Homo sapiens: one gene and its partners. The protein of the gene in region 5 purifies or fractionates together with the protein of the main gene of each other region. This does not show direct contact. Each region holds a gene or a part of one and is shown on either strand. Other genes may lie near its edges. The genes, in order: LSR, GRAMD1A, NPLOC4, EMC8, KCNK16, DNAJC16 and RMDN3.

What was found.
Region 1: the proteins of KCNK16 (region 5) and LSR purify together in Homo sapiens (affinity purification with mass spectrometry; 2 studies listed by BioGRID and IntAct, with this or other methods). This does not show direct contact.
Region 2: the proteins of KCNK16 (region 5) and GRAMD1A purify together in Homo sapiens (affinity purification with mass spectrometry; 3 studies listed by BioGRID and IntAct, with this or other methods). This does not show direct contact.
Region 3: the proteins of KCNK16 (region 5) and NPLOC4 purify together in Homo sapiens (affinity purification with mass spectrometry; 3 studies listed by BioGRID and IntAct, with this or other methods). This does not show direct contact.
Region 4: the proteins of KCNK16 (region 5) and EMC8 purify together in Homo sapiens (affinity purification with mass spectrometry; 2 studies listed by BioGRID and IntAct, with this or other methods). This does not show direct contact.
Region 6: the proteins of KCNK16 (region 5) and DNAJC16 purify together in Homo sapiens (co-immunoprecipitation; 2 studies listed by BioGRID and IntAct, with this or other methods). This does not show direct contact.
Region 7: the proteins of KCNK16 (region 5) and RMDN3 purify together in Homo sapiens (co-immunoprecipitation; 2 studies listed by BioGRID and IntAct, with this or other methods). This does not show direct contact.

What each region holds. Positions count from the first base shown.
Region 1 is NC_000019.10:35,252,002-35,255,501, reverse strand, and holds part of LSR (lipolysis-stimulated lipoprotein receptor isoform 2 precursor), read right to left. Parts: intron 1-3,500. UniProt on the Homo sapiens protein: Probable role in the clearance of triglyceride-rich lipoprotein from blood. Binds chylomicrons, LDL and VLDL in presence of free fatty acids and allows their subsequent uptake in the cells.
Region 2 is NC_000019.10:35,024,323-35,026,969, forward strand, and holds the end of GRAMD1A (protein Aster-A), read left to right. Parts: intron 1-1,726; coding exon 1,727-1,819; 3' UTR 1,820-2,147; downstream 2,148-2,647. UniProt on the Homo sapiens protein: Cholesterol transporter that mediates non-vesicular transport of cholesterol from the plasma membrane (PM) to the endoplasmic reticulum (ER).
Region 3 is NC_000017.11:81,609,613-81,613,112, forward strand, and holds part of NPLOC4 (nuclear protein localization protein 4 homolog), read right to left. Parts: intron 647-3,500; coding exon 598-646; intron 1-597. UniProt on the Homo sapiens protein: The ternary complex containing UFD1, VCP and NPLOC4 binds ubiquitinated proteins and is necessary for the export of misfolded proteins from the ER to the cytoplasm, where they are degraded by the proteasome.
Region 4 is NC_000016.10:85,782,545-85,786,044, forward strand, and holds part of EMC8 (ER membrane protein complex subunit 8), read right to left. Parts: intron 1-3,500. UniProt on the Homo sapiens protein: Part of the endoplasmic reticulum membrane protein complex (EMC) that enables the energy-independent insertion into endoplasmic reticulum membranes of newly synthesized membrane proteins.
Region 5 is NC_000006.12:39,319,903-39,324,186, reverse strand, and holds the start of KCNK16 (potassium channel subfamily K member 16), read left to right. Parts: upstream 1-1,484; 5' UTR 1,485-1,646; coding exon 1,647-1,859; intron 1,860-4,284. UniProt on the Homo sapiens protein: K(+) channel that conducts voltage-dependent outward rectifying currents upon membrane depolarization. Voltage sensing is coupled to K(+) electrochemical gradient in an 'ion flux gating' mode where outward but not inward ion flow opens the gate.
Region 6 is NC_000001.11:15,547,348-15,550,847, forward strand, and holds part of DNAJC16 (dnaJ homolog subfamily C member 16 isoform 1 precursor), read left to right. Parts: intron 1-922; coding exon 923-1,081; intron 1,082-3,500. UniProt on the Homo sapiens protein: Plays an important role in regulating the size of autophagosomes during the formation process.
Region 7 is NC_000015.10:40,741,755-40,745,254, forward strand, and holds part of RMDN3 (regulator of microtubule dynamics protein 3), read right to left. Parts: coding exon 3,223-3,500; intron 2,474-3,222; coding exon of another isoform or gene 2,396-2,473; coding exon 2,293-2,395; intron 1-2,292.

The DNA of each region.
Region 1 (3,500 bases), on a different chromosome or scaffold from region 5:
GGGATTACAGGCATGAGCCACCGCCCCTAGCCCCCACCGTTTATTGAGCTCTTACTATGTGCTGGGCCCCTCTACACACATTCTTTCATTGAATCCTCATAGAATTCCAAACTAGGTTCTCCTAAATCCCCAGGTTTGCCACAATGCCCTCTTCGTCCATCATTTTTCCACCTGTATCTTTTTTGAGAGGGCCTAGCTTGGTCGCCCAGGCTGGAGTGCAGTGGTGCGATCATGGGTCACTGCAGCTTCGAACTCCTAGGCTCAAGCAATCTTCCCATCTCCAGAGTAGCAGGGTGTGCCATCATGCCCCGCTAAATTTATTTTTTTGTAGTCTCTGGGTCTCACTGTGTTGCCCAGGCTGGTCTCCCAGCTCCTGTCCTCAAGCAATCCTCCTGCCTCGGCCTCCTGAAGTGCTGGGATTACAGGCATGAGCCACCAGTGTCTTCAGATCAGACCCTGACCGTGCCTCTTCAACACTGGAGCTCAAGAGCTGGTCCCTGCTATAAACAAAAGAGGTGGACAGGAACCGCCTGCCATGGCAAACAGATCATATAGGCCAGGGGTTGAAATCTGGCATCTTGTAGGCCGAGGCTGGACCTCACTGTGTTTTGTTTGACCTGTCTGACATTTTCAAAACTCACAAAAAATATAGTTTTCCGGCTTCTTTTGATCCATCCTAAGGTCTGGGCACACCTTCTTCCTGCAGGGCGTACCCTGTTCCTGGTCTTGGGCTGGCCGTGATCTCATCCGGGCTGAGCACTGCTTTCATTGTTTTAGGTCGGGGAGAAGATGCCAGGTCTCCAGTGGGAACAGCAGCCAGGCCTCCTCCACATCTCCAACCTCTGGTTCCTTCTTTATACACCGCAAAGGTGACCTTCATGATTTCAGAGGTCCCATGGGCTCTCTGCTGCAGTGCAGCTGGAGGTGGGGGCACTTGGACCCCAAGGAGCCCGAGGAGGTGGAACAGGGCCTCCTGTCCAGGTGCTGGTCCATCACCCAAAGCATGGAAGGACAAAGCAGGGAATGAGCCACCGGACCGGAGGGATGCCTGGAGTGGACAGCCTTCTACCTTATCCAGGACTATTTTCACTTTTGAAACCAGGATAGGCCGGGCATGGTGGCTCACATCTGTAATCCCAGAACTTTGGGAGGCCAAGGCAGGCAGATCACCTGAGGTCAGGAGTTTGAGACCAGCCTGGCCAACATGGCGAAATCCCATCTCTACCAAAAAGATACAAAAATTAGCCAGGTGTGGTGGTGTGCACCTGTAATCCCAGCTACTCAGGAGGCTGAGGCGGGAGAATCACTTGAACTTGCGAGGCAGAGGTTGCAGTGAGCTGAGATTGCACCACTGCACTCCAGCCTGGGCAACAGAAAAAAAACAACAACAACAGAAAAACCCCAGCACAGTGGGTGACCCTAGGAACACCACGGGGAGTCCACTTTTCCCCATCCTCAAAGCTGAAACAGAGGAAGCTCCTATGGCTATGGGATTTCCTGAAAGGACACACACAATGGATGTTTACACTCAGGGCCTTGATCAAACACAGGCCCAGGTGGGGGTGGTTTGAAAGACCCAGGCCTGTGAGGCCCCTGGAGCATGCAGGGCCCCTTCCCCGAGACAGAGCCTGGGGGGTCATCCTGGACTTTTGCGTCCAGCAGAGGAAGCACCCTCAGTATTTGGCTTGTCCTGGCAGAAGCTTAGCAGTCACGCCTGGTCCAGGCAGGCACAATCCCTGGGTTAGAGAGGAGGGGGCCTAAGCAGCCCTGTGACCTCAATAACAGTAGGATGCTCATGGCTGAGCTGCCCACAGAAATTCAGGGCAAGCAAGCCTGGTGCCTCCTCTGAAACAGGACTGACATAGGCTCAGCCCCTGGAACCCTGCTTCCCATCGATCCTCTAGCAGAATGTGCTCCAGTTCCTGGCTTCTTGGGGTCTGCAAAGGGATGCTCCCTTCCCCGCTCTGCCCCATGCCCAACTTTAAATTCTTGTTTAAGACAGTGAACACACACTAAGACATGAGGTACGTGAGCCTTCATCCCTGGCACCCTGCCCCTCCCCTTCCTCTCTGCCTTCTAGGTTCTGTAAGGCCCAGGCCCAGGCCCTCCTCAAATCATATTCACAGCCCAAGTCATTCCATGTAGCACATCACCCAGTGCTATTTTCTTTTTTCTTTTTTTTTTAAGACGGAGTCTCACTGTTTCCCAGGCTAGAGTGCAGTGGCGCAATCTTGGCGCACCGCAACCTTCGCCTCCCAGGTTCAAGCGATTCTCCTGCCTCAGCCTCCCGAGTAGCTGGGATTACAGGCGCCCACCACCACGCCCGGCTAAATTTTGTATTTTTAGTAGAGATGGGATTTCACCATGTTGGCCAGGCTGGTCTCGATCTCCTGACCTCAGGTGATCCACCCACCTCGGCCTCCCAAAGTGCTGGGATTACAGGTGTGAGCCACTGCGCCCAGCCTATTTTCTTTTCATTTCAAGACAGGGTCTCACTCTGTCACCCAGGCTGGAATGCAGTGGCACGATCATGACTCACTGAAGCCTTGACCTCTCAAGCCCAAGCAATCCTCCCACCTCAGCCTCCTGAGCAGCCGGGACCACAGGCACATGCCACCATGCCCAGCTAATTTTTAAATTTTTAAAATTTTTGTAGACATGGGGTCTCATTTTGTTGTCCAGGCTGGTCTCAAACTCCTAGGCTCAAGTGATCCTCCTGCCTTGGCCTCCCAAAGTGCTGAAATTTACAGGCATGAGCCAATGCACCCAGCCTGGTGTTATTTTCTTTGCAACACTTAGTACTCTCTGACATTCTTATACCTTGACGGAGTCTTTTTTTTTTTTTTTTTTTTTGAGACAGAGTCTCACTCTGTCGCCCAGACTGCAGTACAGTGGTGCGATCTCAGCTCACTGCAACCTCTGCCTCCTGGGTTCAAGCGATTCTCATGCCTCAGCCTCCTGAGTAGCTGGGATTACAGGCATGTGCCACCATGCCTGGCTAATCTTTGTATTTTTAGTAGAGACGGGGTTTCACCATGTTGGCCAGGCTGGTCTGGAACTCCTGACCTCAGGTGATCCACCCACCTTGGCCTCCCAAAGTGCTGAGATTACAGACGTGAGCCACCGTGCCCAGACTTTGAAATTCTCATACTCTTTCTTTATCTGCTTATTTACTGCCAGTCTCACTCCACCAGAATGTCATCTCCTTGACGACAGAAACTTCAGCCATCCCAATCACCTCTATCCCCAGCACCAACGACACATAGTCGATGCTTGATAAATACCAAATGAATGAATGAATGACTGCCCCTTACTTAGTCCCAACAGGCACATCCTATCAGGAGGCAGCATTACAGTTAAGAACAAGGGGCCGGGCGCGGTGGCTCACGCCTGTAATCCCAGCACTTTGGGAGGCCGAGGCGGGCGGATCACGAGGTCAGGAGATCGAGACCATCCCGGCTAAAACGGTGAAACCCCGTCTCTACTAAAAATACAAAAAA
Region 2 (2,647 bases), on a different chromosome or scaffold from region 5:
CTAGTGCCAGGGACAAAGCAGATGCCCAATAAATGTGATGTCATCACACGACAATTCCCTCAGGCCCCAGTAGACTCAGGCCAGCAGTTGCGGTGGGTCAGAGCAAGTGTCAGGCCAGCAGTTGCGGTGGGTCAGAGCAAGTGTCAGGCCAGCAGTTGTGGTGGGTCAGAGCAAGTGTTAGGCACTCGGGGAAGGTGTCGAGGGGGAAAGCGGATGGGAAACAGAGTCTGGCATTGCCTGCATTTCCAAGGCCATCAGAGCTGAAGTTGTGGGTGACGGTGAAAATCTTGTCTCATTGGACCCTTCCATATCAGAAGGCTCATCTTTAGGGGTCTCATTGCCCCCCGAAATCAAGCTTGGGAGAGGCTCACACTGGAAAGGGCGGGGCAGGATGGGGTGGGGAGGAGATGAAGGCTGAGGCCCCATCACTCATAGAGAGGGTAGGCAGGGCCCCCCATCCTGCGTTATTTTATTTTATTCTTTTGAGACAGGATCTCATTCTGTTGCCCAGGCTGGAGTGCAGTGGCACGATCATGGCTCATCGCTGCCTCGAACTCCTGACTCAAGTGATCCTCCTGCCTCAGCATCCTGAGTAGCTGGGACTATAGGCAGGCACCACCACACCTGGCCAATTTTAAAATTTTTTGTAGAGACCAGAGTCTCACCATGTTGCCCAGGCTGGTCTCAAACTCCTGGCCTCAGGCAATCCTCCCGCCTCGGCCTCCCAAAGTCCTGGGATTGCAGGTGTGATCCACCACGCCTGGCCCTGAGTTAAATTTTTATCATTTTCCTCTCTGTCAAACTGCTAAGGGTGCAGAGTTGACGTCACAGATTGGTGCTCACAGTAGATGTAGACTGAGCACTTACCTGCAGCTGGGCTGTTCTAGGTTTTAAGCATGACTGCTTTATCCCCACAGCCAGCCTTTGAGAAGATGCTCTTGTTATCCCAGTTTTTTTGAGACAGTCTCGATCTGTCACCCAGGCTGGCGTGCAGTGGTGCGACCTCTGCCTTCCAGGTTAAAGCGATTCTCGTGCCTCAGCTTCCCAGGTAGCTGGGATTACAGGCACCCGCCACCACGCCTGGCTAATTTTTGTATTTTTAGTAGAGACGGGCTTTCACCATGTTGGCCAGGCTGGTCTTGAACTCCTGACCTTAAGTGATCCACCGGTCTCAGCCTCCCAAAGTGCTGAGATTACACGCATGAGGCACTGTGCCCGGCCGTTATCCCGGTTTTATACATAGGTAGGCGATATGAGGCATCCAGAGGTTCGAGGAGCTCAGGAGCTTGCCCGAGGTCACAGAGTGGGTAATGGTGACAGCTAACATGTGCTGAGCACTTAGTGTACACCAGGTTCTCAGTGCTCTTCAGAACCCTGAAATAATCCTGTGGAGCAGATGTGTTATAGACCCGTATTTCAAATGAGGGGATTTTGGCTCAGGGTGGTTACGGGACTTGCCTGAGGTTAACTGAGGTAACAAGCAGCAGAGCCAGGATTTGAACCTAGGCCATCGGGGTCACAGGCACACACTAAGCCCCTTCCTCTGCTGCCTCTGAGAAGTTAAACTGGGTGCAGCATGGCTGTGCTCTTTTCACCAAGGGACCCTGGGGTGGGGCAGTATGGCCTCTAGACCGTCCTCAGTTTCTCAATGGCAAGGTGGGGGTGGGCGACATCACCCCCCAGCCTCCAGCGTTCACCCCCGACCCTGCTCACCTCCTCCCCGCAGATGAAGTTCTCGCTGGAGAAGCTGCACCAAGGCATCACAGTCTCAGACCCTCCCTTTGACACCCAGCCCCGGCCCGATGACAGCTTTTCCTGAGGACCCCGGCCACGCAGCTGTTCCCCCACATGGACAGATGGACACACAGAGCCTCGGCGGCCACTGCTGGCACGGTGTGAGCGCCAGGCATCTCCCACCCGCCCCTCCCGACGGCCCAACCAGGGGCTGTGCAGACGTGGGGACCACGGAACCGAGATGCACTTTAGACCAGGGAGCTGGCCCGGCCTCTGGCAGGCCCCCCACTAACTTATTTTGCCCGGCTGAGGTTGTGGGGGGCGCCTCCTGGGGTGCACGATTCCCTCAGCTCTGGGTTTAATGTATTATATTTATTTGGGGCCGACAGTGCCCCAATAAAGGGTCAGAAGTGGCTGTGGCTGTGCCTGTGGGGCCCTGGGAGTGGGTGGGAGCCTCCTGTTGCACTCAGATCCTGCCATGGTGGGGAGGGGACCTCTGTCTGTGTTCTGGGGCCATAGTCACTGAAACGATCTGGAATTCCCGCAGCATCTTACACAAGCTTTACATCATCTGAGGTCAACGCAGGAACTCCGGGGACAGACCGTGGTAGCTGGAGTTCAAATCCTGCTTCCTAGCAGTGGTGTAAATGCAGCAGGTCAGCCCCCTGGAGCTCCAGTGAGCTTTCCTGTGCAATGGGTAGAATGGCAGTAGCTGTCTCTCAGGGTTGTTAGAAGGCAGTGGTTCTCAAACTTGAGCTGCATTCGAATCTCCTGGAGAGCTTGATGAAAAACAGACTGTGGGCCCCTCCCTCCAAATTTCTGGTTCAGTAGGTCTGGGGCAGGGCTGGGATTCTGCCTTTATAACGAGTTCCCAGGAGTTGCTCATGGTGCCATCCCAGACGACACTTTGGTT
Region 3 (3,500 bases), on a different chromosome or scaffold from region 5:
AGTTTTTCTTTGTGTGCCAGTTATCTTTTCAAGATTAAAATGAATCTCTATTAAACACAAAACGCTCTAAGTCAAATGAGTTTCAGGAAAATTGTGCAAAAAGAAATGCCACAAGATGAGGCAAGAGATGCCTCATGAAGAAAATCGGGCTGGCCTTCCTGCTGTAAACCCAGCATTAACAGTTCCAGTCGGCATTATTACGGTAACTCTCAGTCTCACCAGGACAAACCAGTAGAAGAGATGTGAGATTCAAGGCAAAGTAAATCAACAATGATAAGCACGGAGGCCGACAGGCTCAGCTTTGTGTCAGATCGGAAAAGGATTGTCCAGGGAGCCCGCTGTAAATGCTGCCCCTTTATCACAGCCACACAAATGCTTCAGCCATTCATAATCCAGCGAGAAGGTCACTCCCATAAATAAAGGCTCGTCCTGTGTGCAGCTTGCACTAGGGGAATATGAGGCCCAGGGCAATAAATAGGTAAGTTCTTTGAACCACTCACTACAGCCAAGTGCGTGGACTCAGGGCAAGCACTTAAGACAGCTGTCTACCCGCAGCCCCCCACACTGGCCCAGAACTTACTCCGCAGAGACTCTCACCTCTAGAGGGACGCAGTGCACGCATTTCCCCAAAGGGCCGTGGCGGCATCTGAGGAGAGTACAAGGCAGAAAAAGGCAGAGCAGTGAGGATGTCTGTGTTCCGCTGCTGCTGTCTCACATGCACGTCCTACTTTAACAGAGTGTTTCCCTGCCCACGTGGAGTTATATTCCAGATGGCACATGGATAAACATTTATATTTTAATTGTTGTTTTGTTTTGTTTAAAGACAGGCTCTCACTCTATCGCCCAGGCTGGAGTGCAGTGGTGATCGTGGCTCCCTGCAGCCTTCACCTCCTGGGCTCAAGCACTCCCACCTCAGCCTCCCCGAGTATCTGGGACTCCAGGTGTACACCACCACACCCAGAAGTTTACTACTTATGTTGATATGAATTAGAAAAAACTGACCCGCACATCAAACCTGTGACTTCATGGGTATCCACTGCTTAAAATGACACAAACCAGGCCGGGCGCGGTGGCTCACGCCTGTAATCCCAGCACTTTGGGAGGCCGAGGCGGGTGGATCATGAGGTCAGGAGATCGAGACCATCCTGGCTAACAAGGTGAAACCCCGTCTCTACTAAAAATACAAAAAATTAGCCGGGCGCGGTGGCGGGCGCCTGTAGTCCCAGCTACTCGGGAGGCTGAGGCAGGAGAATGGCGTGAACCCGGGAAGCGGAGCTTGCAGTGAGCCGAGATTGCGCCACTGCAGTCCGCAGTCCGGCCTGGGCGACAGAGCGAGACTCCGTCTCAAAAAAAAAAAAAAAAAAAAAAATGACACAAACCAAAGATAAAAGTGAATGAACTCAAAGTCAATGTAAGTAGTTTATTGGCCAAAGGCAGTGGCTCACACCTCTAATCCCAACACTTTGGGAGGCTGAGATGGGTGGATCACCTGAGGTCAGGAGTTAAAGACAAGCCTGGCCAACATGGTGAAACCCCATCTCTACTAAAAATACAAAAATTAGCCGGACGTGGTGGCAAGCACCTGTAATGCCAGGAACCAGGGAGGCTGAGGCAGGAGAATTGCTTGAACCTGGGAGGCAAAGGTTGCGATGAGCTGAGATTGTGCCACTGCACTCCAGCCTGGGAGACGAGAGTGAAATTCCACTCAAATAAATAAATAAATAAAATAGTTTTTTTTTTGTTTTCTTTTTTTCTGAGACGGAGTTTCACTCTGTCACCCAGGCTGGAGTGCAGAGGTATGATCTCGGCTCCATGCAACCTCCGCCTCCTCGTTTCAAGCGATTCTCCTGTCTCAGCCTCCCAAGTAGCTGGGACTACAGGTGCACACCACCATGCCTGGCTAATTTTTGTATTTTTAGTAGAGACGGGATTTCACCATATTGGTCAGGCTGGTCTCAAACTCCTGACCTCAGGTGATCCACCTGCCTCAGCCTCCCAAAGTGCTGGGATTACAGGTGTGAGCAACTGCGCCTGGCCAAGTCCATTTAAAGAAAAGTGTTAAATAGGCCAGGTGTGGTGGCTTGCGCCCTGTAATCCCAGCACTTTGGGAGGCCGAGGCGGGTGGATCACAAGTCAGGAGATAGAGACCATCCTGGCAAACACGGTGAAACCCCGTCTTTACTAAAAATACAAAAAAATTAGCCAGGCGTGGTGGCGGGCGCCTGTAGTCCCAGCTACTTGGGAGGCTGAGGCAGGAGAATGGCGTGAACCGGGGGGACGCAGCTGGCAGTGAGCGGACGTCGCGCCACTGCACTCCAGCCTGGGTGACAGAGCGAGAGTCCATCTCAAAAAAAAAAAAAAAAAGAAAAGTGTTAAATAAATAATAACAAAGCTGGTACGTGAACATGGCAAAGGGCCTGAGAGCGGTGCATAAATAATCCAAGTTTGGAAAATACCTACTTCATATGCATTTTGGGAAATAACAACAATGAAAAAACCTTGTCCCACGGCTTTCTAACATTTTCAGTCACAGAAGCCTTGGGAGCACAACACGCACAATCTGAAGGAGAGGTATGCTGGTTTACGAGGGCGCCGGCGGCCGTCCCTCCGGGGCTCAGTCAGACCCCTTTCTAAGTGGGGTCAGAATTCTTACATGCGTATGAGCCCTGTGCTGCGGAACAGAGGTGGCCTCTGTGCTTCCTAATAGGCAGGATCTAAGTGATGATGGCTCAGAATTCTCTCACACACACACGCTCTCAAAAGCTGCTAATGAAGCCATGAAGACACAGATCATGCAAGCAAGCCAGTGCCAGGCCCCTGGGAGGAGACACAAATGGAAGAGGCATGCCGGCTAATGGCTATGGCTACAAAGTGGCTCCATGCCAATGGCAGGAGAGCACCATTTATGGCTCTCTGATCTAAGACATAAAAGTTGCTAATGCAGCATTTGGAATCCCAATACCGCAAAGTCAGCACCCCGTCACATCTACAGAGTGATGCATTTTAAAAAAGACCCCACTGCAGAGACAACCTTCGCTCAGACAATTTCACATGGCCAAGTATAAACTCAGATCCTTCTCACTGGTTTATTTAAAAGGAATTGCAAAAAATCTAAAATAAACAATGTACATATGCATAAGCACTTCATATAGCCCCAGGTGAGGAGGGAATATTCCAAGGCACAGCATCTTCTGCAAGTGAAATGCTTGCTGCAGGGATGGAGAGCGCACACTAGTGTGGCAGGTCAAAATCATCCAACCGCTATGAAATGAGAGACACAGCACTCACCTCACATGGATGCGCACACACAACCACCTGCCCCTTCCCTCCTCCCTCCCCTGCAGCTGCTGATTAACACCCCACTCTGCACGGGAATCAGCATCTCCAGGGGACATCACAGTAAAGACTTGGTGTGAGGCCCCCAACTCCCCCAATACCTTTCCAGTCTCTTTGTACCCAAATGCTTCAAAATTTTTTATGGGAACATATTTTGAGGTGGA
Region 4 (3,500 bases), on a different chromosome or scaffold from region 5:
AAACAAAAGCATTGAACCGGTTCCCTCTAGCTGCTGTCCAGCTTCCCTCCTCCCTTCCATGACTGTTTCTTCAACTTCTTTAACAAGCCGCTAGTCTTGCTCCATGTCCTCACCACAGCTCTGTGCAATCTGCCATCTAACCCATTCCCTTGCAGAGCAGCACTCCGGAAGTCTCCTGACCACTGCCTGATGGCCCCAAGACTGCTACCCCCTCAAAAGCCTCCCAGCGGGAACCCACCACTCTCAGGCAGGCCAGTCCATTTCCAGCCTCTCCGACCTGAGGCCACCTTTCCCTCTGCTCTTCCCCACCCTGCAGGCCACAGGTCCTTTCTCTGCCCTCCTTTCCTGCATTCTCCCTGTCATTTATTTCCTTCAGTCTCTCACCTTAGGCAGGGGCTTCTAAAACTGCTTCCTAACCGGTCTCATAATTTCTACGGTCACTCGCTCGCTCTCTTTTTTAAAGAGACAGGGTCGGCTGGGTGCAGTGGCTCACGCCTGTAATCCCTGCACTTTCGGAGGCCGAGGCAGGTGGATCACCTGATGAGGTCAGGAGTTCGAGACCAGCCTGGCCAACATGGTGAAACCCTGTCTCTACTAAAAATATAAAAACTAGCTGGGTGTGGTGATGCACATCTGTAGACCCAGCTACTCCGGAGGCTGAGGCAGGAGAATCGCTTGAACCCGGGAGGCGGGGGTGGCAGTGAGCTGAGATCATGCCACTGTACTCCAGCCTGGGCAACAGTGAGACTCCACGTCAAAAAAAAAAGAGACAGAGTCTCGCTTCGTTGCCCAGGCTGGAGCATGGTGGCTATTCACAGGTGTGATCATGGCCACAAACTCCGGGTCTCAATCAATCCTTCCTGCTCAGCCTCACAAGCAGCTGGGACCACAGGCACGTGCTACGAAGCTCAGCTTAGGCTCTTCTTATCCGATGTAACCTGAAAATTCTCCTGAACTAAATTTTCCTAAAACAGAACTTCCATCACGTCCCCTGGTGCTCACAGCCCCACAGACTACTGCTCACCACTGCCTGCAAGATGAAGGCTGCTATTCTCAGGCTGGCAGAGGCAGGCCTTCGTTACGGTGAACTGAGCTACCGTGTGCAGCCACAGGGGCAATGCTGTGTCTTCAATGTCAGGAAATCTGCCTACATGTCATCTGCCTCACATGCCCGTCTTGTTTCACTCACACTGTCCCGTCTGGCCCTCCACACCAAGGCCTCCTTACTGAATTGCTTCCCCTCTTTCAGTGCCCAGAAGACATGCCACCCTCACCACAAAGCCCTGCTAAACCCTGGATGAGACCCCCTGCCCTGCTGGAGTTCTGAGGATTTATTTCTAAGAGGCTCTAACACAGAGTCCATGGCACGTGCTGCTTTCCTTCTGTGCATCCTGTCTGCCCTGCACAATCAAGGCTTTCAGCTTTTTGTGGCAGGGACCAAGCCATCCATCTTTCTTTTTTTTTCTTTTTTTGAGATGGAGTCTCACTCTGTCGCCTAGGCTGGAGTGCAGTGGCGCGATCTCGGCTCACTGCAAGCTCTGCCTCCCGGGTTCACGCCATTCTCCTGCCTCAGCCTCCCAAGTAGCTGGGACTACAGGCGCCCGCCACCACGCCCAGCTAATTTTTTGTATTTTTAGTAGAGATGGGGTTTCACCGTGTTAGCCAGGATGGTCTCGATCTCCTGACCTCGTGATCTGCCCGCGATGGCCTCCCAAAGTGCTGGGAATATAGGCGTGAGCCACCGCGCCTGGCCCCATCTTTCTTTTAACAGCCATAAAAATACATGCATTATTGTGAGTTATTTAACAAAGCACACTATATACAATTACAATCCTTCCCTTGTGATTAGGCTAAAAAAAATTAATAATGTTTTTAAAAAACAAATTATTTTATATGATTATTGTATTTTCGTTTTCAAAATTGACAAAGTGATGTACTGATTATAAATCTGCAGTATTAAGAAAAATATGACTTAAAAATGTGACTGTGTTAAGAAAAATATGACTTAAGAGGGAAGGGGAGGTTTTCAGGTAGAAGCCAATCGTACTGAAGAAAGCAGTGCGATGGTGGCTCCTAGCGCAGAGGGAAGGCAGTGCTTCACTGCACTGACCAGGACTCGGTGGGCGCCAGGTCCCCACAGCACTAACGGCAAGTGGTGAAGAGTGGGTACAGAGCCCTCAGGAGGCCTGCCCATGTACCCACCTCTGCCTGCTCCTGCATTTGCTGAGGAACTTGGAAAGCAAAAGGCAGGGCCGCTTGCCATGAAGAGCTTGCAAAGCCCTTACCCTCCTACTTAACACTGATCATGCTGGTTGTTGATTTTTATTGGGGAGAGGGTAAGGAAACACTCATTAAAAAGAAAAACTACCATTGCAGATGCTCAAGAACTCTTAACATCTGTCTTTCTATTCACTGATTTTTGAGATGGGGTCTTGCTCTGTTGCCCAGGCTGGAGTACAGTGGCGAGATCATGGCTCACTGCAGCCCCAACTGCCCAGGCTCAAGTGATCTCCCACCCCAGCCTCCCTTGTAGCTGGGACCACAGGCGTAGGCCACCATGTCCAGCTAATTTTTGTATTTTTTTGTAGAGATGAGGTCTTGCTATGTTGCCCAGACTGGTCTTGAACACCTGGCTCAAGAAATCCTCCTGCCTTGGCCTCTGAAAGTGCTGGGATTACAGGTGTGATCCAACATGGCTGGCCTAAAATTTATTATTTTAAAAGAAGTCTAAAAATTTGTAGTTGGCCGGGTGTGGTGGCTCATGCCTGTAATCCCAGCACTTTGGGAGGTTAAGGTGGGTGGATCACTTGAGGTCAGCAGTTCGAGACCAGCCTGGCCAACACGGTGAAACCCCGTCTCTACTAAAAATACAAAAATTAGCCAGGTGTGGTGGCAGGTGCCTGTAATTCCAGCTACTCAGGAGCCTGAGACAGCAGAATACTTTGAACCCAGGAGGTGGAGGTTGCATTGAGGCGAGATCGTGCCACTGCACTCCAGCCTGGGTGACAGAGTGAGACTCTGTCTGCTCTGCCACCGCCCCGCCAAAAAAAAAATGTGTAGTTAATGAACTGTCAAAGTATTTGAAACAGCTGCCAACTTTGCATTTCTCTGTCTTAGGCACTGAATCTCCAATACTGATCCACTTGATCCTGAATGAAGACTGCCACGCTGTGGTTCCTGCTAGTCAGGAACTCCTTGTTCCTAGGAAGAGCCAGCTGCCAACTGAAACTGCAGGCACCCTGAAGGCAGACCACTCTGCTCACCCTCAACAGCACCATGTCGGGCCAGCGTGTAGGTGCCATCTTACAATGTGTATCTAAAAGCTTCCTCCTGAGTGTCTGCCTCAGGCCAGGGCTCTCTGCCGGGCACCGAAACCTACTCATATCAAATGCTAACTATGAAGCAAAACACTGGCCAACAATGAATCATATAATAAAACTTGATGGAATGACCTAAAGTTTAGGAAATTCATAAAAGTTATAAACACTACGTTAGAACAG
Region 5 (4,284 bases):
ACTCACTGGGGTGCACTTCACCTGCCAGAGCTCCCAGGAACCAGGCTGAGGCTGGGACTGTGGTGCCTTGTTTGGCTTTCTCCTCAGCCTGGCCCTCTTGCCCACTGTCTTATGGGTCTTCAGTGACTTCACTGCTCTCAGGGGCTGAGACAGAGGGGAGCAAGATTAGCACTATGACTTAGACCAATTATGCTCAATTACCTGGGGTTAACACTTACAAAGCCGGGGTTCTGCTAGCTGGGGAGGAGGGAAAGGATACTCAGCAGGCAACTCACAGTGTCTGCAGCCACAGCTCATTAAAGGAAACAGCAGAAAACACAGCAGAGATATTGGAATCCTCGCCCTGGGCTAGTGAGAATATAAAATGGTTCAGCCACTTTGGAAAATAGCCTGGCAGTTCCTCAAAAAGTTCAATACAGAGTGGCCAGATAGTCCAGAAATTCTACTCCTAGGTATGTACCTGTGAGTAATGCAAACACATGTCCACAAAAAAAACTCATACACAGAGGTTCATAGCTGCTTTGTTCTTAATAGAAGGAAACAGGGACAACCCAAATGTCCATCAACTAGAAATCAAATGGATAAACAAATGTGTTATAGCCACACAATGAAATATTACTCAGCCAGAAAGAAGGAAGAAGTACTGTTACATGTTGCAACAGGGCTGGATCTTGAAGACCCTGTGAATATACTAAAACCCACTGAATTGCACACTTTAAATGTGTGGACGATACAGCATGTGAATTATATCTGTATAAAGCTGTTATACATGTACATAAACAAGCATGTGTACACACACACACACAGGCAAAGAGAAAGGAAAGCACTCTCAATTCCATCCACTCAGAGACAGCCCCTCTTACCATCCCAGGATCAGGATATACTTATAGTTTCTTTTTAATTCACACATATATTTCACCGACATATCCTCTGAAGGTAACCCACTAGAGGGCTTCATGCAAGACAAATTAGCAAGAGTTATAAAACCAATGAATCCAACTTATCAGCAGAATCAACCCTGATACTCTTACCATCAGGCTGAGTGAGACAATCACCTGTCTATTTACTTTGCCCTGATTTGTCACGCAGTTTACTCATCCTGAGGTTCCCCCAATAGGCAGTTCAATTATCCTGCCCCATTTTGTAGCCAAGGCAACTGAGTAGAAGGTTTATTCATACCCATTCTGACCTCTTCCCAGCTCCTAAGCTGGGGTCTTACAGCCTTCAAGGGTGAAGACGCTGGGGGCGGCCGAGAGAGCCCACTGGGGCCTGGACAGAGTGAGCACACCTATCCGATTTAGCCCAGAAACATCTATCCAACTTGGAGACAGAGAGAGAGACATGAAGCACTCAGGAGAACCTGGTAGGTCTCTTTGAAGGGTCCCTGACACTGACTTGCTGCTGTCCATGGAAACAAAGGCCGGGTGGGGGTGGCCGGCCTGTTTGCACTCACAGCATAGCACTTAGTGCAGCCAAGCTGAGCCGCACTGTTCAAACAGTCTCCCCAGCCTCCAGACACCTGTGCCGAGGAGGAGGGCAGGGCAGGCGGCAGCCTGGGCACAGGCCCCTAGGTGCTTACTCCTCACCTGTTTCCCACCTCTCCCCCATAGCCAGCCCCACGGCCCTGGCAGGGTCCTGGCCACAGCATGCCCAGTGCTGGGCTCTGCAGCTGCTGGGGTGGCCGGGTGCTGCCCCTGCTGCTGGCCTATGTCTGCTACCTGCTGCTCGGTGCCACTATCTTCCAGCTGCTAGAGAGGCAGGCGGAGGCTCAGTCCAGGGACCAGTTTCAGTTGGAGAAGCTGCGCTTCCTGGAGAACTACACCTGCCTGGACCAGTGGGCCATGGAGCAGTTTGTGCAGGTGAAGGGGAGCGATGTGGGATTGGGATGGAGAGGCTTGGGAAGGTTGGTGGAATGGGGTTCCTGTGGCAGATCCACAGTCCTCACCCAGGAGCTGATGCCCCATTTGGAAGAAGAGTGTGGTGGGAACAGAGAGCCTGGTGAGATCTAATCCTGGATTCTGGCCCCAGGTCTACAACTGGATTGATGTGTGACCTTGAACAGGTCACTTAACCTCTCTGGACCCAAACAGCCTCATCTATAAGGCAACAAGAATAACCATATCGGTACTGCAGACATTTGACAGCAGATTAAAAGCACTCTCTAAGCTGTCACTTGCTGGATGAATGGGAACTATATGTCAGCGTTATCAACGCTATCCAAATTTCCTCCTCCCACACTTTCATACTTCCCCTTCCCCAACTCCAGGGCTGCAGCTCCTTCTGCCCTCTCCCAGCTCATATCCCTGGGCAGACGGCTGCGGGTGGGAGACACAGATAAATGCCAGGAGCAGCCACCACCAAGCTGTCCTTTCCTGGCCTGTTTGCACCTGGAGTTGGGTTTGGTGGGCAATGGCCAAGGTGACTGAGCTTGCCAGCACTGCACCCAAATGGGGCTCTCTCTTGGTAACAGAGTGGGTCACCCCCTGCCTGGGTCCTTTCTGGTTTCCTCTTTCCCAGAAACAAGACAAAACCAGGTGTTGTGGAGGGAGGTGAATGCATCTGAAATAGGCACTGGAGCGAGTGACAACATCCCCTGCAAAGGAACAGACCAAGTGCCAAATCACCTTGATAACTGGCATTTACTGAGCATTCACAATGTGCCTAAAACAGTGGGAAGCAGGGTGGTCATGACCAGCTTAATCCAATCATGATCCACTCATCACCTGACACTGAGCGTGTTACAGGTGTTTTCTCATAATTACCTATTACAATCCCTATCTCCACTTTGTAGATGGGAACTGAGGTAGAATATGTTGACCAAGGCTGCACAGCTACTGGTAGAGACAGCATTCACTCCCAGGCCTCTGGCTCTGGAGCCCCGGGTCTTCACCACACAAATTAGCATAAGTGCTGGGGGCAGGATGCAACCTGAAGCAGCAGTTCTCAAAGTGTAGTCCCGGGACCAGAATCAGCATCACCTGGGAGCCTGTTAGAACTGGAGATGTCAAGCCCCACTCCGCACCTGCCGACTCAGGAACTCTAGGGATGGGTCCTGCAGGCTGTGTGTCAACAGGCTCTCCAGGTGATGTTGAGGACCCTGAAGACTGAGAACAGCTGGCCTAGAAGATGATGCGTGGGCTGGGTGGTCACAGACAACATTCTGTAGCTGTGAGAGACCAGGAAGTGAGGCCTCCAGCTTCAGGTTTTACTCTCTTCTCCCTGATGGATAAGGTTAGTCAAAGTTGGGGGACCATAGTACCACATCAGGGTTGAGAACAGTTCAGGGGCCTCCCAAAACCCTGGGAGTAAGGCAGAGGCCCTGGAGAAGCTGAAATCTCCTCCCTCAGCTCTGCATTGGAGGTGAGAGCCAAGCTGGAGGGCGTGGGAAGGGTTGGTAGCTGCAACCTAACTCGCTCTGCTAACCAAGACGAAAGGAGGCCATCCGCTTGATTGCAGCCCCGAAGGGATTGCCACTGATTAGCCCCTGGGGCCTCCCCAGGGAAGACAGGACATCCCTTTCCCTGAGAGTCCTCAGCCTCAGGAGAGACCCTTCCTTGCCAGGGGCAGTTGAGCTGGGTGGCAGAAGAACACTGGGGTGAGATTCTGGAAGAAGACACATTCCTGTTGAACTCTCAGACGCACAGGGCGAGTTGAGTAACTAGTATTAAAAGCAGTATTAAACATTGCCTCTGTGACGAAACACTGCTTGCCCAGGTTCACAAAACTGGGAAGTCAGAACCCATGGCCACCTGCATCCGCCCACCGGCACTCAGCACCCTCAGCAGGATGAGGGCTGCAGGCTGGCAGTGGGGGATGGCCCAGGACTAGAGTACTGCCCCCAGAAGTGAGGGTCTCCAGAGAACGAGCATGTTCGGGAATGTTGGGCCCTGGCCACTTTGTGGATGTGGGAAAGAAAGGGAGGCCAAAGTCCACATCTTAAGAGGCCAGTTCCCGTCAAAGTGAGGAGAAGCAGACAGCCTGTGACCGCAGATGCCCTGACTGGCTTGGCCCACCAGGGCCACCCCAGCCCTGATCTAAGCACACCCACCCAGCCAGCGGGAACTGGTTCCCATAGGAATTGGAAGCCAGAACTGTTGTGTCCCTGGCTTCCTCCTGCCTTTGGGGCTCTTCGGTGGCAAGGCTGTGCTGCTGCTCTGAGACAGTCCACAATTAAAGAGGAGAGGGTTGGGGCAGGGGAGGAGAGAGCCCTGCCTATTCTCCAAGGCGGCTGGGCCCAGGGACTGGAGGTTGTCAGCAGTGGGGCAGCGAAGGGAGGTGTTGTAG
Region 6 (3,500 bases), on a different chromosome or scaffold from region 5:
ATGTTGGCCAGGCTGCTCTCGAACTCCTGACCTTGTGACCCACCTGCCTCAGCCTCCCAAATTGCTGGGATTACAGGCATGAGCCACTGTGATGGGCTTTTTTTTTTTTTTCGGAGACCAAGTCTCACTCTGTTGCCCATGCTGGAGTGCAGTGGTGTGATCTAGACTCACTGCAACCTCCGCCTACCGGGTTCAAGCAATTCTTTCACCTCTGCCTCCAGAGTAGCTGGGACTGCAGGCACACACCACCACGCTCGGCTAATTTTTGTGTTTTAGTGGAGATGGGGTTTCACCATGTTGGCCAGGCTGGTCTTGCACTCCTGACCTCAAGTGATCCGCCCACCTCGGCCTCCCAAAGTGCTGGGATTAAAGGCATGAGCCACCACGCCTGGCCACTATCCCTGTTTGCATAGAGCAAGATACTGAGGCTTAGAGCAGTCATATAACCCACCCAAGTTCTCACTACAGCATGGTGAGCGCGATTCCCACTGACTTCAGACCTGCCCTGTGAATGATTCCCCCACTACACTCCCAGCCTACCTACACTCCCCACTACCTCTCATGTCACTGTGACATGAGACGGAGAGGAAGGTGTTATCAGTGGCATGGTCACTGCCATCTTACCTAATTACGGTACAGGTAATCCCCAAACTCATGCCTCCTGACCAGTACAGATTTCAAGAAGATCGTTATTTTGCTTTAGCTATGAAAAAGAAGAGAGTTGTTTGTATTTACTTTGTTGGTACAGTTTTTGCACATGGAACACCATAGAATGGAAGTATACAAGGATACGGAAGACCTAGTGGAGCTGTGTAAGCTGGCATGTACCTCTCTGCTCAGTGATGTGAAAAAGCCCTACTTGATTTGTCATTTACATCTTTGCTGTAGTTTTATTTTCTTCCTCTCTATTATGCCCTAACAGTTGACTGCCTTTGCATACAAAGATTATTTATCATTTGGATATGTATATGTGGGTTTGAGAGGGACGGAAGAGATGACAAGGCGGTACAACATCAATATCTACGCCCCTACCCTCTTGGTCTTTAAAGAACATATAAACAGGCCTGCCGATGTTATCCAGGTACGTGAGGGTCACCTTGGTTAAGATTTTCTTCACATTTTATCCCAAGATTTTATGTAAATAAACAGCAAAATTGAACAAAGTGGCTGAAGGAAAGGATCTTCCTTCAGATGCACAAAATTTTTTAATGAATTTTTTTATCTAACTTGGTACCGTTTGCTTTAAAATTTTTAATTTAAAACGTTTAAAAATTTTAGCACCTTTAAAGGGCTCCTGTTGGAAAACCAACAATCTTTTTCCAAAATGAATTTAAAAGTTAAATGTAAAACAGTAATAAAAAGGAATAAGAAGAAGCCACAAACTAACTGAGAGAATGTACAGATGAATATTTATCTGATCTTAAGGTAGGAAAGGGTTAAAAAGCATTGGGGAAAAATCTTGGAAAATCTTGATAACTTGACTCTAAATTTTATGTTTTTATGTAAATACTTTAAAATGTAAAGTTAAAAAACTGGGGGAATATTTATAACAAATATTAAAATGTTGATATTTTTAATTTCTAAAGAGCTTTTAATCAAGAAAATCATAAAATTCTGAGAAGACTAATAACCATTTTTAAAAATTAAATCTCACAAGTAATCAGAGAACATTAACCTTTTTTCACCCATCCAACTGTCAAAGATTTTCTAAGTTAAAATAGTACTGTTGAGGGTATAGAGAAACAAGTACTATCTTGCTAGAGGCAGTCCACTCTAATGGCAGCTCAGGTGTCCTGTGAACACAGAAGGGTACCTGAAACCATGGAAACCAGATGGGAAAGTGGACCGTAAAGAAAGAAGAGCAGGTTTAGAAAGATAAGAACTTTGGCTGTGGACATACTGAATTAGAGCTGCCTGTAGGAAATAGAAGGGGAGAAGTCCTTTCTACAGTTGGGTATAGGAATCGAGATCTTAAGAAAAGCATACAGGCTGGGGATAGAAACTGGTGTATCATCAGTAAATGGTTAGTGGTTGAAGTCCTGAGTAGGGTAAGATCTTCCCGGCATAATACCGTAGTCTCCCCTGATCCACCCCACTTACCCCTTTTTCAGTTTCTGAGGTTTCAGTTACCCACAGTCAACCAGGTCCAAAACATAGGTGACTACAGTGCAAGAAGATATTTTGAAGCCGGGCGTGGTGGCTCACGCCTGTAATCCCAGCACTTTGGGAGGCCGAGGCGGGCAGATCACGAGGTCAGGAGATTGAGACCATCCTGGCCAACGTGGTGAAACCCCGTCTCTACTAAAAATACAAAAAATTAGCCGGGCGTGGTGGTGGGCCCCTGTAGTCCCAGCTACTCGGGAGGCTGGGGCAGGAGAATGGCGTGAACCCAGGAGGCGGAGCTTGCAGTGAGCTGAGATCACGCCGCCCACTGCACTCCAGCCTGGGCGACAGAGCAAGACTCCGTCTCAAAAAAAAAAAAAAAAAAAAAGATGTTTTGAGCGAGGGGGACCATGTTCACATCACTTTATTACAGTATATTGTTAGAATTGTTCTATTTAAATATTGTTGTTGTTAATCTCTTGCTGTGCCTAATTGATAAACTTTATCATAGGTATGTGTATAGGAAAAAAACATAGTTTGTATAGAGTTCAGTACTATGTGGTTTCAGGCACCTACTGGGGGTCTTGGAACGTATCCTCTGCAGTTAGGGGATGACTGCTGTATGTAAAGTAAGGCCAAGGAGGCCAAGGACAAAACTCAGAACAGCCACCGGCACACAAGACAAGGGGGTGCCTGATGGAGACGAGAAGGTGCTGCAAGTCAGGAAGAAAACAAATACCAGTGTCCGAATAGAAAAGAGAAGATAATCTCAATCCAGGGTAAATGGATGAGGATTTCCTAAATTGGTCTTTCGGAACAGTTTATAGTTCTGAGAATTATATTTATTTATCCCACTGGGGAAAATTGTAAATCAAATACATTTACAAAATTATTGGTAGAATGGCTGCTTTACCAGCTTGCTCTTTGTGGATATCAAGTGTATGCTTAACAAACTCAGTTTTCACAACAGCAGGTGGCTTAATGATCACTAGTAGCACCAGTGGTTTCCTGTTGCTCTAGGTAATTTGTTGTCATTGCTATATGGTATTTATGGCCATTATAATTTATTGAATCATTCTTCCGTTGGTGGACATTGGGGGCTTTGAGGAATAGTGTTGCAATGAATATCATAACCTAAGTACAGAGTTCTCTAGGACAGCAGTTTTCAGAATGTGGTTGATAGACTCCTGGGGATTCTCAAAGATCCTTCAAGAGAAAGTCTGTGAGATCATATCAAGACACGATTTGCCTTTTTCACTGTGTTGACATTTACACTGATAGTACCAAAGCAGTAGTGGGTGAAGCTGCCAGTGCCAGTGCATGAATCCAGGCAGGGCACCAGGCCACCTACCATCATTGTGTGCTTCACCCCCAATCACTCGCAGCAAAAACAAACC
Region 7 (3,500 bases), on a different chromosome or scaffold from region 5:
AGTAGCTGGGATTACAGGTGTGTGCCACCACACCTGGCTAATTTTTGTATTTTTAGTAGAGACAGTTTTGCCTTGTTGGCCAGGCTGGTCTCAAACTCCTGACCTCAGGTGATGCGCCCACCTCAGCCTCCCAAAGTGCTGTGATTACAGGTGCGAACCACCGTGCCCAGCCAAGAATTCTTTGAAGAAAACAAGTTTGGAAGGGAACATGGAGAAAATGGAACAAATGTAATGCATTGAGGTGGTAAACTGGCTAATCTGAAATGTTTTCCTTTTTTTATTTGAGACAGGGTCTCTCTCTGTTGCCCAGGCTGGAGTGCAGTGGTGCAATCTCAGTTCACTACAACCTCTGCCTCCTGGGCTGAAACAATCCTCCTGCTGGCATGTTCCACCACCATGCCTGGCTAATTTTTTAAGTTTTTTTTTTTTTTTTTGTAGAGACAAGGTCTCACTATATTGCCCAGGCTAGTCTCTAACTCCTGGGCTCAAGCAATCCTCCTGCCTTGGCCTCCCAAAGTGCTAGGATTATAGGCATGAGCCACCACACCTGGCCACAAATGCATTCTTAAGACAACTGATGCTGTGAAAGACTCTACCTCTCTTCCCAAAGAGAGGGACCACATGGCCCCACCAATGAGGGACGCTGCCTCTTTGGGGATTTCTCTCTGCCCTCTTCAAAGTACTGTCTCACTAGGAAAATAATAGCAAAGAATGAGACAACTAGTTCCTGCCAAGCTAGACAGACAGTGTTGTAGACAAGACATTGCCTGAGACCCCACAGAATGACTGCCTCCTGGTGGTCCAGCTCCTAGAGATACAATGAAATAAACTTTATACCCAGTAAGGATAATTCTTAAAGGCTGTGATCTCAGAGCAGAACCTTCAAAGACATTCCATAGTCATCTGACCTCCAGCAGGTAAAGCTTTGTCCATGGGTGCTAAGCTCAGGAGGCCAGACCAACCAAGTGCTGCCCTGCTAACCACTGCCTCCACTTCTGTCTTTGGGGTTCATGCTGGCTACTAGCACTAATAAGAGATGACCAATGATCAAGAGGGAAAGGAAAGGTTGTTGACATGAAGAGTCCAAAAATCAGCCCAAAAGCTGAGAATCCTCATCTGAAATTTAGGAGGGAAAACAAACTTTTGGAGAGAAAAAGTAATCATAAATAAGCATCTTTTGTTAAAACTTCCAGGAATTTTTCTGAGGGTCTACAGAGACATCCTACTCAATTGGTCTGTTCTTTCTCCATTGACAGAATTCTACAAATGTTTAGAATGTTAACTTTGAGGTACTGTTTGAGTATACATTATCAAGGATTCAATAATATTTGTAAGGCTGTACTTACAATAGAAAGGTAGACAAATCCATTTTAGACAGTTAACTGGCCAGGCACAGTGGTTTATGCCTGTTATCCCAGCACTTTGGGAGGCCTAGGTGGGTGAATCAGTTGAGGCCAGGAGTTCAAGACCAGCCTAGCCAACATGGCGAAACCCCATCTCTGCTAAAAATACAAGACTTAGTCGGGTATGATGGCATGTGCTTGTAATCCCAGCTACTGGGGAGGCTGAGGCAGGAGAATTGCTTGAGCCCAGGAGGTGGAGGTTGCAGTCAGCCGAGATCAGGCCACTGAACTCCAGCCTGGGCAACAGAGAAAGACTGTTTAAAAAAAAAAAAAAAATAGATATTAACTGAACCACAGACCTAGAAACCCATTACCCATTGATGGTACCTGACTCAGTGTGTGGAGTTCAGCAGGACACATCAGTCTCTAAAGTCCAAGCATTCTCTGACCTCATGACAGATAAGGCCAAGCCCTGAGCCTGGCACAGGTCAGATGCACCCTATCCTCCAGGGTGGAGCCTTTGCCAACAGACTTGCCAAGTGGATTCCAGAGTCTTCTAAGCTAGCTATATTCTTAGAACACCTGCCCCACCAGCTCAGAAAACTGAAACCAGATTTCTAAGCAGCAGCAAAAAACCTCAGGTTAAGAAAAAAGGTTTTGCCCTCTGTGGCTAGAGTGAGAAAAACGAATAACATTGATAGGATACAACTACTCCTAGAAACACATGCACGTGTGTTACTAATCAGCATGATATACAGATAAGCAAAGACTGCTCTCTTCTTCCAGAGGAGAAAGCAAGGGTCTTTGGGAGCCAGAGTTTGTCCCTAGTGGGTAACTGAGCCACAACTGCTGACAGCATCTTGGTGGTTCCCCGGGTCCCCAGGCAGATGGGCCAGCCCCACCCCTGAATCAGTCAGTCACCTTCCCACAGGAAGCTGTCAGCACTTACCATCTAGGGCATATGACTTCTTCTCGCTCACCTCCTCAGTGAGCTCACACATGTCACTGTAGGCTCGGGCCAGGCGCCAGAGAAAGTCCTGCCGGCTTCCATACTGCAGACCAGACAGAAACGGGTGAGGCCCCTTTTTCCTCAACTGTGGAGAATGGGGGCCTTGGCCTTCCCCCACACCCTAGGTTTGAATTTCCAAGCTAGTATGTTACAGTCATCAATATCAGGCCAGCTCCTACACGCAGCCTTCCCCCCAGTCATCCCTTCCCACGTGCAGTTAATGTATGACACATTCTCTGTCTAGCCAGTAGCTTGCACAATTACGGGGTGAGGGCATTCTGACCTCCTAGAACTGCTGGGAGGAAAGGTCAACTCCAAGATGTCATAAGGCACGAGAGGTCTTTTGCTGACACATGAAGAAAGTGTGAAAGGAAAAGGGAAACTTCTAACTTCTGGGGGGGGGGCATTTATACCTGGGTGGGCATATATTCTGTCAGTGAACCTGACAAGAGAATTATGGTTGAGTGACCTACACAGTTGTCGCTTGTAATGGGGCTGGCAGCTTGGACTCTGCCTCAAGGGAAATGAGGAGAAAAAAAAAATACAGTTCTTTCCACATTTCCCCCTAGAGGTGAGAGGTAGAGCTCTTTCTGCAGTAGCTCTACAGAAAGCAGAGAACTACACTCCCCCTCCCAAGAGGGGAGGCAGCTCTGGGGCAAGCAGTACACTGGCCCTAGGATCCACGCTGGGCCTCCTTGGAAGAGGATATGTGACCTGGGGGACAGATGCAAAACCAGCTGTCTCACCATTTCTCGTCCCATGTCACCTTGTAGGGGCAGTAACCACACGGGCCTTCATTCCCCAGGGGTCAGGAACAGAGAGATGGAGGGAGGGAGGGAAGGAGAAGGAGACAGGCAGCTGGAGCCTCACCACCAGCTTGTTGTTGAGCAGCAGCTGGAAGCCCTCCCGCTTGCCTTGCTCATCACCCCTGTGCAGCTCGTCGGCCTGCTGCAGGAGGGGCAGCACATCCTCCAAGCCTGAGGAACCTCCAGCCTCCAGGGCACTGGAGGCACCTGAAGCTGCCTCTTCCTCCAAGTCAAGAGAATCCTTTCTCCCCATCTTCACAGTCTCACAGCTCACTTCATCTTCCCCGTCCTCACTTTCTTTGTCAGAGTCCCGCTCATTGTCAGACTCCGCATTGGCTGTTG